Linked DNA regions of Homo sapiens: region 2 is linked to region 1. The links come from fine-mapping of genetic effects on gene expression. Tissue or cell type: caudate. Region 1 holds a variant in brackets; the other region holds the start of a gene. All regions are shown on one strand. Distances are between the middles of the regions.

Region 1 (5,361 bases):
CATGTTAGGCATTGTACACTTGGGAGCTGTGTGTGCATGGAAGCTCACGCATGTTTGCACCTGAACTGTGTGCGCGCAGGTGGTCTGTGTGCAGCCTCCCCTTCATGATGTGTGTACGGCCATTTCACACCTCTGTGCTACTGTGTGTGAGGGCAGATGATATGTCCTGGTATCTCCCGAGTGTGTTTGTAACCATATGCGGGGTGATATGCCCCAGCCTGTGTGTGAGGACTGGCTGTGTGGGAGTACTGGTATGGCTGGGAGGCTGCTATGGGCACTGTGGGCCCAGATGTTTGTGTTGTATGTGGAGGTACCTGTAGCTGGGTGTGGGGCAGCCTAGGAGTGCCACTTCATCTGCAGCTGCAAAGAATGGGGAAAAGAATGTCAGGCATTTTGGGGGACCTGAGACAGGCTCCGTGTCCTCACTAAGTCTCCATTTCCCTTTCTGCTAATGAACCAGTTATCCTTGAGGACGTCCTGGGATTGAGGCCCCTAGAAGGAGGGGGAGACATGGATGAACCCACAGCACCCGATGGGCAGTTAGAAATCGCAGTCATGTTGTGGGGTAAGCAGCTGGTCTGCTCAGGGGAGGCCAAGTGAGGGGGTCCAGAAGCACCACACGCCTGGGCTACTCGACGCAGGAGGTGCCTCTCTAGGCTCCTTTAACTTAGGAAACCCAGTCCTCCTCTGCTCCCCCTCCCCTGTGTCCAGAACACTCCCCAGCAGTCACCCCAACGGCTGGGACGCCGCCCAGCTCCACACCTAAGGTTTACAGCGGGCTTTGTAGCGCGGAGTCCTCGTGTCTCTTTCTCTTGCAGGATCGTTGATTCCTTTTCCACAACTGGAACCAGAGGCCAGAAGAGATGGCCCCCCGAAGGACCAGGACTAGGACACGAAGGCAGGTTTCGGGACCTCAGACGTCTACAGTAACCACGCTGCGCGACCAACACCTAAGGATGCCCCGGCTCCAGACTGAGACCCAAGTCTGACTTCCCCCTGCCAGTTGAGGCTCCTTGCCTGGTTGCTGCGACGATTCGAGATGGGCCTTACCCGGGCCCCACGCGTGTCGCAGGCACGCAGCACGCACGCTTAGTAAACACCAGCTGTAGTGAGCGAGTCCCCCTTTGTAACTCGACAGAGTACTAAGTTCTCTGGAGCGGCGGGCGCCGCCGGTCAGTGGCGTCCGCGGGGACCCCGCCCCCGCCCCCCGCGCGCGGCCGGGGCCACCCGGTGGGGTTGCGACGCGCTGACGTGGGCGGATCAAAGCGGCCGCCCGCCTTATAAAGCAGTTTGGGAGGCTCGCGCCGGAGATCGCGCCAGGCGAGGAGGAGAGCTCGGGCGAGCGGCGAGCACAGGCCACGGGAGCTGAGCGCAGCAGAGAGCAGCCGGAGTCCGCGCCTGACTCCGCGCGGGTCCTGAGCCGGCCGCAGCTTGCCAGGATCCCCGGCGTCCTTCTCGCGCCGCTTCACGAAGAGGGCGCCTTCGCCGCTCGCCCAGCCGGAGTGCGCACGGGCCCGCTGGAAACCGCACTCGCCGCTCCCTGGGCAGGCCGGGGCACCCGGGCACGCAGGGCGCGCCTGGCGAGCGCCCCGGGAGGTGAGCAGTGGTCGCGGGCAGCGGGCAGCCGCTCAGCGGGGACCCGCCAGGGCTGGGGGCGCCCGAGTCCGAGGGGGACGACGCTTCTCGCACCCGCCACGACCCCCTTGGGCACCCACTCCCGGGTAAGCAAACCAAGCGCTCCTCCATACCTTTCCCCCGCAGCACTCCGAAGAGTTCCCCTTTGCGGAGCGAAGCCTCGGGAGCCTGGGGACGCGGGGTTTAGGGGCACGCGGGACGGTGGTGGGTTGTGCAGTTCCTGCGGCCCTCCTCGAACTTTCCCGGCCCGGCCCCCCTCTTCTGCCCCCGCACCCCAGGCGACCCCCTCCTTCCCAGTCGTTCGGCGGATGAGGTCATGCCCGAGCCACCCCCGGGGGTGGGGGACTTGGATCCCGCGACAGAGGGTGTGTGTGGTGGGCGGGGGGAAAGGGTGGCAAAAGGCAAAGAAATGCGGCAGCGCCTAGTAAATTGGGGATGGGGGCAGAAGCCTGGCTTTGAGAACGGGTCCCAGGGGCGGCGGGGGGAGGGGGAGAACCGAGTTTGTTTACTGACCTGAGCTCCAGGCTGGGGGCTAGGGAGGAGGAAAGTCCTGTCCCCGGCCCCGAGGCACATCTGCAACCGCCCGGAACATCTGGCTGAGCTCGCGCACGAGCTCCACGCCTCCCACCCCCGGGGCTGAAGTGCCTCGGTGTCCCTCAAGGCCCTGGGCGTGCAGGGTCCGGCTCCAGGGGGTTAGCAGGAGGGATCTCGAGTGCTCCCACCCACCCTTCCCACTTCCAAAACAACCCGTCTCCCGGGTGACCCGGCGCCGCGTGCGCAGCCAAGCAGACG[T/A]CTCTCGAAAGCCTCACGGCTGGGGTCAAAGCCGGGTGGCAGGCCCGGCCTCGCCCCGCCCCGCAGGTAACCTTGAAGCCGTCGCTCGGCGTCCCTGGTTGGCGGGGTCAGCTCCGTGAGCTGCGTGGCGGGAGGCTTCGGGACCCGCCCGTGCCGACCTTGCGCGCCGCGCGGACAATCGGCCCCGGTGCACGGTGCCCGTGGGGCGTCGGGGTAGGGGGGACCCCGCAAGTCCTCGCCGGGCCGGCGTGGCCTGGTCCCAGCGGCCGGCTTTCCAGAGTCCTCCACAGACCGGGCCTATGACCATCTGTTGGCGGCGCTGGGCTGCGGCGCTGCGCTCGTGGTGTTCTCCCTGTGCACAGCCCCAGGCGGCCGCCTCCCGGGCCCGCTGCAGGCAGGGTAGCTCGGACCAACTTCGAGGAGGTGACCGCTCGCTCTCCAAAGGTGCTACGCCTGGCGCGGCCCACTACGCGCCCGGCCCCAAGCAAGGGGCCGGGCAGGTCAGGGCGGCCCACGGCAAGTGTCCTATAGAACGACCAGGACACAGGGGGCACTCCCTCGACACGTCGTCCCATCCCCAGACGGAGAAGCGGGGGCCCAGGAAGAGGACTTGACCCCAGCCCGCGACGCAGGAGGCAGCCGCGATTCCCCCCTCCTCGAGCCCCGGCTTAGCGCCCCCTGGCGGGCTGGGGGCTTCAGGAGGCGCGTGCACCCTGACCCGCGAGCTCAGGCGGAAGGTGACCCCGTGGCCTGCGCGGCTGTCCCGGGCGCTCGTACAAGGGACAGGAACAGTCCGTCAGGACCCAGAGGCTCGGGCCAGGCGCTGCCTCCCCGCGCGACGAGCTTGGGCGGCGGAGGGAGAGCCTTGGGACAGCCGGGGCTGCACCGAAAGAGCTGGGCGGGGCTGGAGGCCTGGGTCCCCGTCCGCTGTGCGACCTAGGGGGCTCCTCCTCTCCCTGGGAGACCAGGCTGGACACAGATCCCCCGCTGTGAGTCCGCGCGCCTCCGTCCTCTTGCAGCCCCCGCCCCCTCCCCACCCAGGAATGCCGGGTGCCTTCGGGGGGCGGCGCACTTTGGGAGAGGGGAAGACGGTGACTGGAGTTTTGATTCCCCCCTCCATATCCAGCGGATATTTTTCTCGTTCTGAGAAGTGCAAGAAACTTGCAGGACCAGGAAGACAAAGGATTTGGATACAGGCTGGGTGGGAGGACGGGACTGGGTTACACCGAGAACCCCTCTGAGACCCCCAGCCTTGACGGCATGTTTGTCGCAGGCGCCCCTGTGCTGGGCGCTAGCTGCGGGGCTCTGCGGAGGAAAAAAACTGTACGATCCAGGCTTCTCCTCGCCTTCCTGTGGGTTTTGCCGACAGGCTCCAGAAAACAGTGGGGCTTCCCATCTCTGCGTGCTGACTACCCACGCGCAGGAACGCGCCACGCAGGTGGCGTCGCGGTGCAAATAGCAGAGGGGCGCTGAGCCCCGCAGGCTGCAGGGAGACGGGGTCCTCGGGGGACGCACGGCGAAGCCCCATTCCTCGTTCTTATGGAAGGGGACACCGAGGCTGGGGTGGCTGAGGGCTTGCCCAAGCTCACAGAGCCAGATAAGAACGTCCCTTTTCTGCTCCAGCGCCCCCACTACCGTGGGCGCCTCCTTTTCCAACTCCCCAAACCCTTAGAAAGGAATCCCTTTGTCTCTGCTCCTCCCGAGGGGAGAGGGGCTGGGGCTGTGTCTGACTCCGGGCGAACGCCAGGTGTTGGTAAATTTGGGAGAAGCTGGGAAGGGAGTTAATGAGGTGAGAATGAAGTGAAGGAGAAAAAAAGCGGAGATAGCTGCTCCGCGGGCTGCGGGCGGGCGGGGCAGCCTCTCCTCCGCGGCCCGAGGGCGCCGCCTGGAGGCCAGAGGCAACACCGCGCCAGCCCCGCGAGCTTCCCCGCTTCGCTAAGGCGGGGCTGCCCAGTCCCAGCCCGCATGCTTCCACTCCCACCCTCCAAAGTGGAGCGGCTAAAGACGGACTTGGAGACTCGGAATCCTCACTGTACAAAGAGCCCTACCATCCCGTTTCCCATCCTCCCCTTCCCACACCGAGAAAGCAGGGCCCCGAGCAAGCCCCATTTCCTGATTTCGCCGGACACCCGGCTTGCCGCTCCCTAGCTGAACCCCACCTCTGTGCCTCAGTTTCCTCATCTGTGAGATGAGGCAGCGATAGTGCCTATCTCACGGGGTGCTGGGAGGAGCAGATGCGATCGTGTTAGGGAACTTTTTTTGTTTGTCTGTTTGTTTGAGACGGAGTTTCGCTCTTGTCGCCCAGGCTAGAGTGCAGTGGCGCAATCTCCGCTCGCTGCAACCTCCGCCTCCCGGGTTCAAGCGGTTCTCCTGCCTCAGCCTCCCGAGTAGCTGGGATTACAGGCGCCCGCCACCACGCCCGGCTAATTTTTTGTATTCGTAGTAGAGACGGGGTTTTGCCATGTTGGGCAGGCTGGTCTCGAGCTCCTGACCTCAGGTGACCCGCCCGCCTCGACCTCCCAAAGTGCTGGGATTACAGGCGTGAGCCACCCTGCCCGGCCAGGGAACGTTCTTTATAAAAGCGGAATTGTGCCCGAATTGCCCCAGCTTACTGAGGAGGTAAACTGAAACACGTTTGGGAAGGAGAATTGCCGAGGCCCTATTAACTAATGCTCAATATTGCAGGGATAAGCCCCAGCTCCGGGTCCTCGACTCTGCTGCCTCGCCTGGACTCCTGATTCCTCATTCCTCTCCTTTCCGTCCCAGGTTGCGTCTGTCCGGGTTTCCCCCTCTGTCTCCGTGGCTCTCAGCCTTGTCCTCTGAGCGTCCTTCTCCCTCTCGCTGTGTCTGCCCGGTCTCTCCTGGGTCTCCGGTTCTGCCGCCTCCTGTCCCTCCTTCCGGCTGCCCCGGCCAGAGGGGCTCGAAGGCGCGTTG
Region 2 (5,361 bases), 6.8 kb before region 1:
TGCTGGCCGAGGCTCCCCAGGGGCCCAGACCGTCTGGATTTCCTTGCACATAACTATACCTCGTCCACATTTTCACAATTAAATTGTCAGTTTGGGTTAAGTGTTGTCTGCTGATGGCTGTCAACCTCTCTCTGGCTCTCCTCACTCTTCACCCAGAGCAGGTAAGTGAGAACGTCCTGCCTGTCCCTCAGTGCCATGGAAAGGAACTAGGATGTTAGTGGGAGGCAGGAGAACTGGGTTCCAGGGTAGCTCTGCTATGCACTTGCTGTGTGGTCTTGGGTAAGTCACTTGCCCTCTCTGGGCCTAGGTCTCCCCATCTTAACAACAGAGCTAATCACCTCTGCCCAGCCTCCCTCTCAAGCCAGTGGCAAGTCTCAAAGGAGCCTGCCCATAACTGTGGCAGGGCTTAGAAAACTGGAAAGCTCAACTTGAGGTCTGGGATGGTTAATAAAATGAGCAAACGGACCTTGAGAGGGACTTCTCTGAATCCCCACCAAACAGACAGGTAAGTCAGTTCCCCTCTGGTCTACCCCGCATCCTTCTGGCTACAGATCTAGCCCAGGTCTTCTCCCTCTCACAGTCTGTTCCTGGATTGAAAAGGACAGAAAAAGTGCTCTTCCCAACAGGGCTTGGCACTGAAGATGCAGAGCAGAGGTGCTAGACCAGAGGACTAAGGGCCCTGCTTCCCACAACAGATGTGTCCATGCAGGTGGCTCAGCTGCTGCATTAGTGGCCAGGCTGTCCCTCCCCTCCACTAGCCCAAGTCATTCCTGCTGCTACCCCACTTTCCCCTCATAGGCTTCCAGGAGCTCCATCTCCCCTCACCTCCCCATCCAACCCCAGACCTGCCCCAGACTTGAATCCCAAACCTGACCTTACCCCTTCCCTCTTCAGACCTCCTCCATGTCTCTCTTGGCAAAGCCCAAGCTCCCTAGCCCAGCACTGAAGGCCCTCCGTGGCATGGGCCTGGCTTCCTCTCCCGTTATTCTCCCTCCTGTTGCTCTTCATGCCAGCAGCACCGAACCACCCACTTACCCTTCTCTGAAAGCAAACTTCTTCTTGTCTTTGCTTACACTGTTCCCCTGCTGGGAACGCCCTCCCCCTTCCCCGGCCACCTGACAATTCCTCTCCCACCTGCACATTATTTATATAGACATGAATGCTAAGTACAGATGAGCTCTCCATCTGGAACTGTTTACGTACCTGGCAGAAAAGGAACTAACCTTTATCAAGGACCGATTACGTGCTGAGCATTTTACATACATCATCTCTCCTTTAAGCCCCACAGCAACCCAGGCAATAAATTTCACTCCTCCTATTTTTCAGGTGAGAAAACTGAGGCTCAGAGACATGAAGTGTCTCTTCCAAGGCCAAACAGAAGTTGCTTTCGAGTTGCAACCCCAAACTGTGTGATCCAGAGCCCATGCTTGTTTTAGGGCCAGGTGGAAGCACTTCCCTTAGGGTTATATCTGTGTCCGGGGACACCATGTACATAAAAATACTTGTTATTAAGTGAGGTTGTGCTGCTTTGTAATGCTAGGGACCATCGTGATGTGCCTAAGGCTATCCTATATAAGAGGGGACCCCAGGAAGACAGCCAGGACCCCTGGGGGAATCAGAGGTCTCTGCTCTAGACGGAGGAGGATCTTCTCCAAGACAGAGCCATTCATAATGGAAGACACCATCCTGGAGGGAGTGAGCTCCAATCCCTGGCAACTTTGGAGCAATTACTGTTTGTCCAGCCCTGGTGCAGTACTGGGGACATAGCAGCACATGACAGAGCTATCACTGGCCACATGCTGCCCCAGATCAGTGGAGACATTACAGGGCCTCTGGTGGCCAGCACCTTGGGGTTATGAGAGGGGGTGGCCCAACGGTAAGATTCTAAGATTCTGAAATGACATTAGACAAATAATTGTGTATATATTTAGCTTTTTCACTCTTTAAGCCTGGCTGCTTCTTGTCTCTATTGCTACATAACAAACCATGTCAAGATTTAGTAGTTTAAAGCCATAATTGACTCTCGTGCTTCTGTGGGCTGACCCAGCAGCTCTGCTGACCTTGTTGGGCTCGCTCGCGTGGCTGCATTTGACTGATGGGCCAGCCGATACAGCAAGGCCTCTCTCTGCCCCAGCCTGGGCTTCTGACCTTGCAGCTGGGCTGGGCCCCAACAGGGTGAAGGCAGAAGCTGCAAGGCCCCGAGTCCTGGGCAGCAGAACACAGGCTACATCTACTAGTCAAGCAAGCCATGAGGTCAGCCCAGATGGAGGGGTGGGGACAGAGCCTTCGCTTTTGCATGGAGTCACATTCCAAAGAGTCTTTATGTTCTGGGATGGGAGGAATTGGTGCTACTAAAAAGCTGCCTCACTGGCCTGCTCAGAAAGGCTTCAGAACCAGTGACAAATAACTGCATGGCTTATGCCTGGATGTCAGGAGACCTGATATCTGTCTCCTGCACCACTAACCGAGTGATGTGCGACCCCTCTCTCGGCGTCAGTTTCTCTATGTGTACAGTCGGGGCACTGAGCATGGTAGGTCTCTGGCCCTGTGTGTGCGTGTGATGGGGTGAAACTCAGACAATGCCGCCTCTCTTCTCCCAGGTGCAGAGACGCTGATTTGTACACATATCAGAGAAGCAGAGGCCCAACCATAAAAGAAACTGCCATCCTGACACAAATGCCCCTGTGGCCCACTGCTTCCTATGCCTCCTCTTCTGGTGACAGGCACTGCACCCAGCCATGCCCAGAGCCAGTTTCCCGTGGCAATAACAGATGTCCATCAGAGGGAGAGTGCGTGACTCAAACAAGGCCAATCAGCCGCCTTCCCTGGGACTGATTCAGAGGCCCAAGGAGACAGAGGTCTCATTTGACTGGAATTTCTAACTGGGGCTGTTGGTGGCTGCATCCCAATGGGGAGAAATGAGGCCCGGGTGAGTTCAAAGAGAGGAGGAAGAAGGAGAAGTGAGTTTGAGACAGCACAGCATCTCCAGGGGACCAGCACCAGCCCTGAGCCCTCCTGAGTGCAGTAGGGCCACCAGCCACCCCAGTTTCTCCTGCAGGAACCAGTTTCTCTGGTGTTGAAGCTGGTTGGGGTTGGGTTTCTTCTCTCCTGGAGCTGAAAGAGGCCTGAGAAACACACACATTGTCTCCTGAGCAGCCACCACCATGATTAAACAACTGAGAGTTGAAAGCAGGCTTTCAGATGTGACGCCCTCAGTAGACATGACGGGTGGCATTTTGTTATGTGCACCCAGGAAAGACACCTCCCATCTCTCCGTGGTGCCCCCAGGCCTGCTCCCTGAGCCCTGTAAAATAACAATACCTCCCCTGAGGTAACTGAAGGGGAGGAGGAAGACATACCCTACCCTGGGCAGTGGGCAGAGGTTCCAGAAACCCACAGACCCGGGGTTTGCAGCCAGGCCCACTCACTGACAGAGAGATCTTGTATGAATTACCTGACAGACCTGGCCCAGTGTGCTTATCTGCAGAGCAATGCCTGTCTCAGGCATAGGCACAGAAACTGCCTAGCACACAGTAGGTGCTTGTTCAACCAATATGACTTCTTACAACATTATTTCTCAATAACATCGAGAAGGAGTGGTTTCGTGGCTTTCTGTTTTGCAGATGATGAAACTAAGGATCCCAGAGGCTGAGTGACTTCCCCGGAGTCCCTCGGTGGGTAAGTGGAGGAGGTGAGTCTGACAGCCAGGCCCAGGTGCTCTGATGACAGGCCTGCTGCTATTTTGTCCCCTTACCCCACCCTTGCCTGGAAGATCTGGCCTCACAGGGCATGCCAGAAACAGCTGGGCTGGGTTCCTCTGCTCAGACCCCCTGTTCATGTGTCTTCTCAGAAAGGCCTTTCTAAAAGCACCCTGGTGGTGGAAGCAGTACGCTTTAGTCTCATTGTAACCAATGAGAAATGGGAAATGGTGATGACGGCCTCTGCCCTGCCCTGCCCTCCCTCGAGATGTGTCCAGGACCAGGATGAGGGATCTCAAAAAATGGTTCTGGCCGGTGCAGTGCCTCATGCCTGTAATCCCAGCACTTTGAGAGGTCAAGGTGGGTGGATCACCTGAGGTCAGGAGTTTGAGACCAGCCTGGCCAACATGGTGAAACCCCTGTCTCTACTAAAAATACAAAAATTAGCCGGGTGTGGTGGTGGGCACCTGTAGTCCCAGCTACTTGGAAGGCTGAAGCATGAGAATCGCTTGAACCCAAAAGGTGGAGGTTGCAGTGAGCTGAGACTGCACCATTGCACTCCAGCCTGGGCAACAAGAGCGAAACTCTGTCTCAAAACAAAACAAAACAAAACAAAAATGGTTCTGGGAAGCCAGCATCTGCCAGGTGGCCTGGGGTCGGGAGAGGGAGAGTACCTGTGGTCTTCCTTCATTCACATTCATGGCTCGTCCTATGGCACAGGCTGGTTTGGTGGTGAGAAGAGCATGGCCCAGGGAGTGCTGGTTCCAGGCTAGAAAGAGTCATCTATGGAGCAGGTCCAAACCCAACCAGGAGCCTGGGACCCATGAGTCCAGCCCATGCCAGCTGCCCCCAGCCAACCCGCAGACATGGGAGGGAGAGGCGTGTGCTTGTGGATGATGCCACAGAGACTGTACACAGCAAAAGTGGAGCAAAACACTGTCGCTTTTTTTTTTTTTTTTTTTTTGAGATGAGTCTTGCTCTGTCACCCAGACTAGAGTGCAGTGGTACCATCTTGGCTCACTGCAACCTCTGCTACCCAGGTTCAAGCGATTCTCCTGCTTCAGCCTCCCAAGCAGCTGGGATTACAGGTGCCTGCCACCACACCTGGCTAATTTTTGTATTTTTAGTAGAGATGGGGTTTCGCCATGTTGGCCAGGCTGGTCTTGAACTCCTGACCTCAAGTGATCCACCCACCTCGTCCTCTCAAAGTGCTGGGATTACAGGCGTGAGCCACCACACCTAGCTGTCACTCTCTTTTGAGTCCCTTGGTGAAGCGATAGCGGTGAGCTGAGCGGTGCCCCACCACATCCCCCCTTCACACACCACAAAGTCGTGGCCCAGGGTGCGTGATCTTGACCCTTCTCCTTACTGGCTGCTTTTGGCTTTCTCTGGAAAAGCCTTTGTTGTTGTGGGAGGGATAAAGTGCTGAGGTCTGAGTAGGGGTAGTGGGCTTAGGGAAGACAGAGAAGGCATTGGGGGGGACATCTGGGGTTGTGGTCACACAGCATTCTTGGGTCAGGAGCCCCAAGATGTGTGGGTTCTAGAGCTGAAAAGGCCCTTAGAGGTTCAACCCTTCACTTATAGATGGGCGACTGGGGCTCAGACAAAGCAAAAAAACTACCTGCCATCACACAGCAAACTAGTGACGGGGCTCAGGACTGCA

Which allele goes with the higher level. Positions count from the first base shown, and alleles are read on the strand shown. Sizes are in standard deviations (SD) of each study's normalised expression.
With allele A in place of T in region 1, the expression in caudate of the gene that starts at base 2,826 in region 2 is lower (small effect, 0.37 SD a copy in GTEx).

What was found.
Region 2: LINC02761 starts here. The variant in region 1 is fine-mapped to the expression of LINC02761 in caudate (GTEx, PIP above 0.99). The same link has a PIP of 0.9 or more in skeletal muscle and visceral fat.

Annotation. Positions count from the first base shown.
Region 1 is chr11:76,206,707-76,212,067 of GRCh38, reverse strand. It overlaps LINC02761 (long intergenic non-protein coding RNA 2761), which reads left to right. Exons shown (of 3, transcript XR_007062785.1): 3 at 819-1,112. It overlaps LOC112268079 (a long non-coding RNA gene), which reads right to left and starts at 2,241. Exons shown (of 2, transcript XR_002957259.1): 1 at 2,149-2,241; 2 at 536-1,803. It also overlaps a transcript of WNT11 not described here. RefSeq lists silencers at 1,392-1,561, 4,214-4,433 and enhancers at 1,774-2,440, 2,773-2,822, 2,441-3,107, 4,442-5,109. The variant T/A (reference allele first, on the strand shown) is at 2,428.
Region 2 is chr11:76,213,555-76,218,915 of GRCh38, reverse strand. LINC02761 (long intergenic non-protein coding RNA 2761) reads left to right here and starts at 2,826. Exons shown (of 3, transcript XR_007062785.1): 1 at 2,826-2,929; 2 at 3,624-3,691.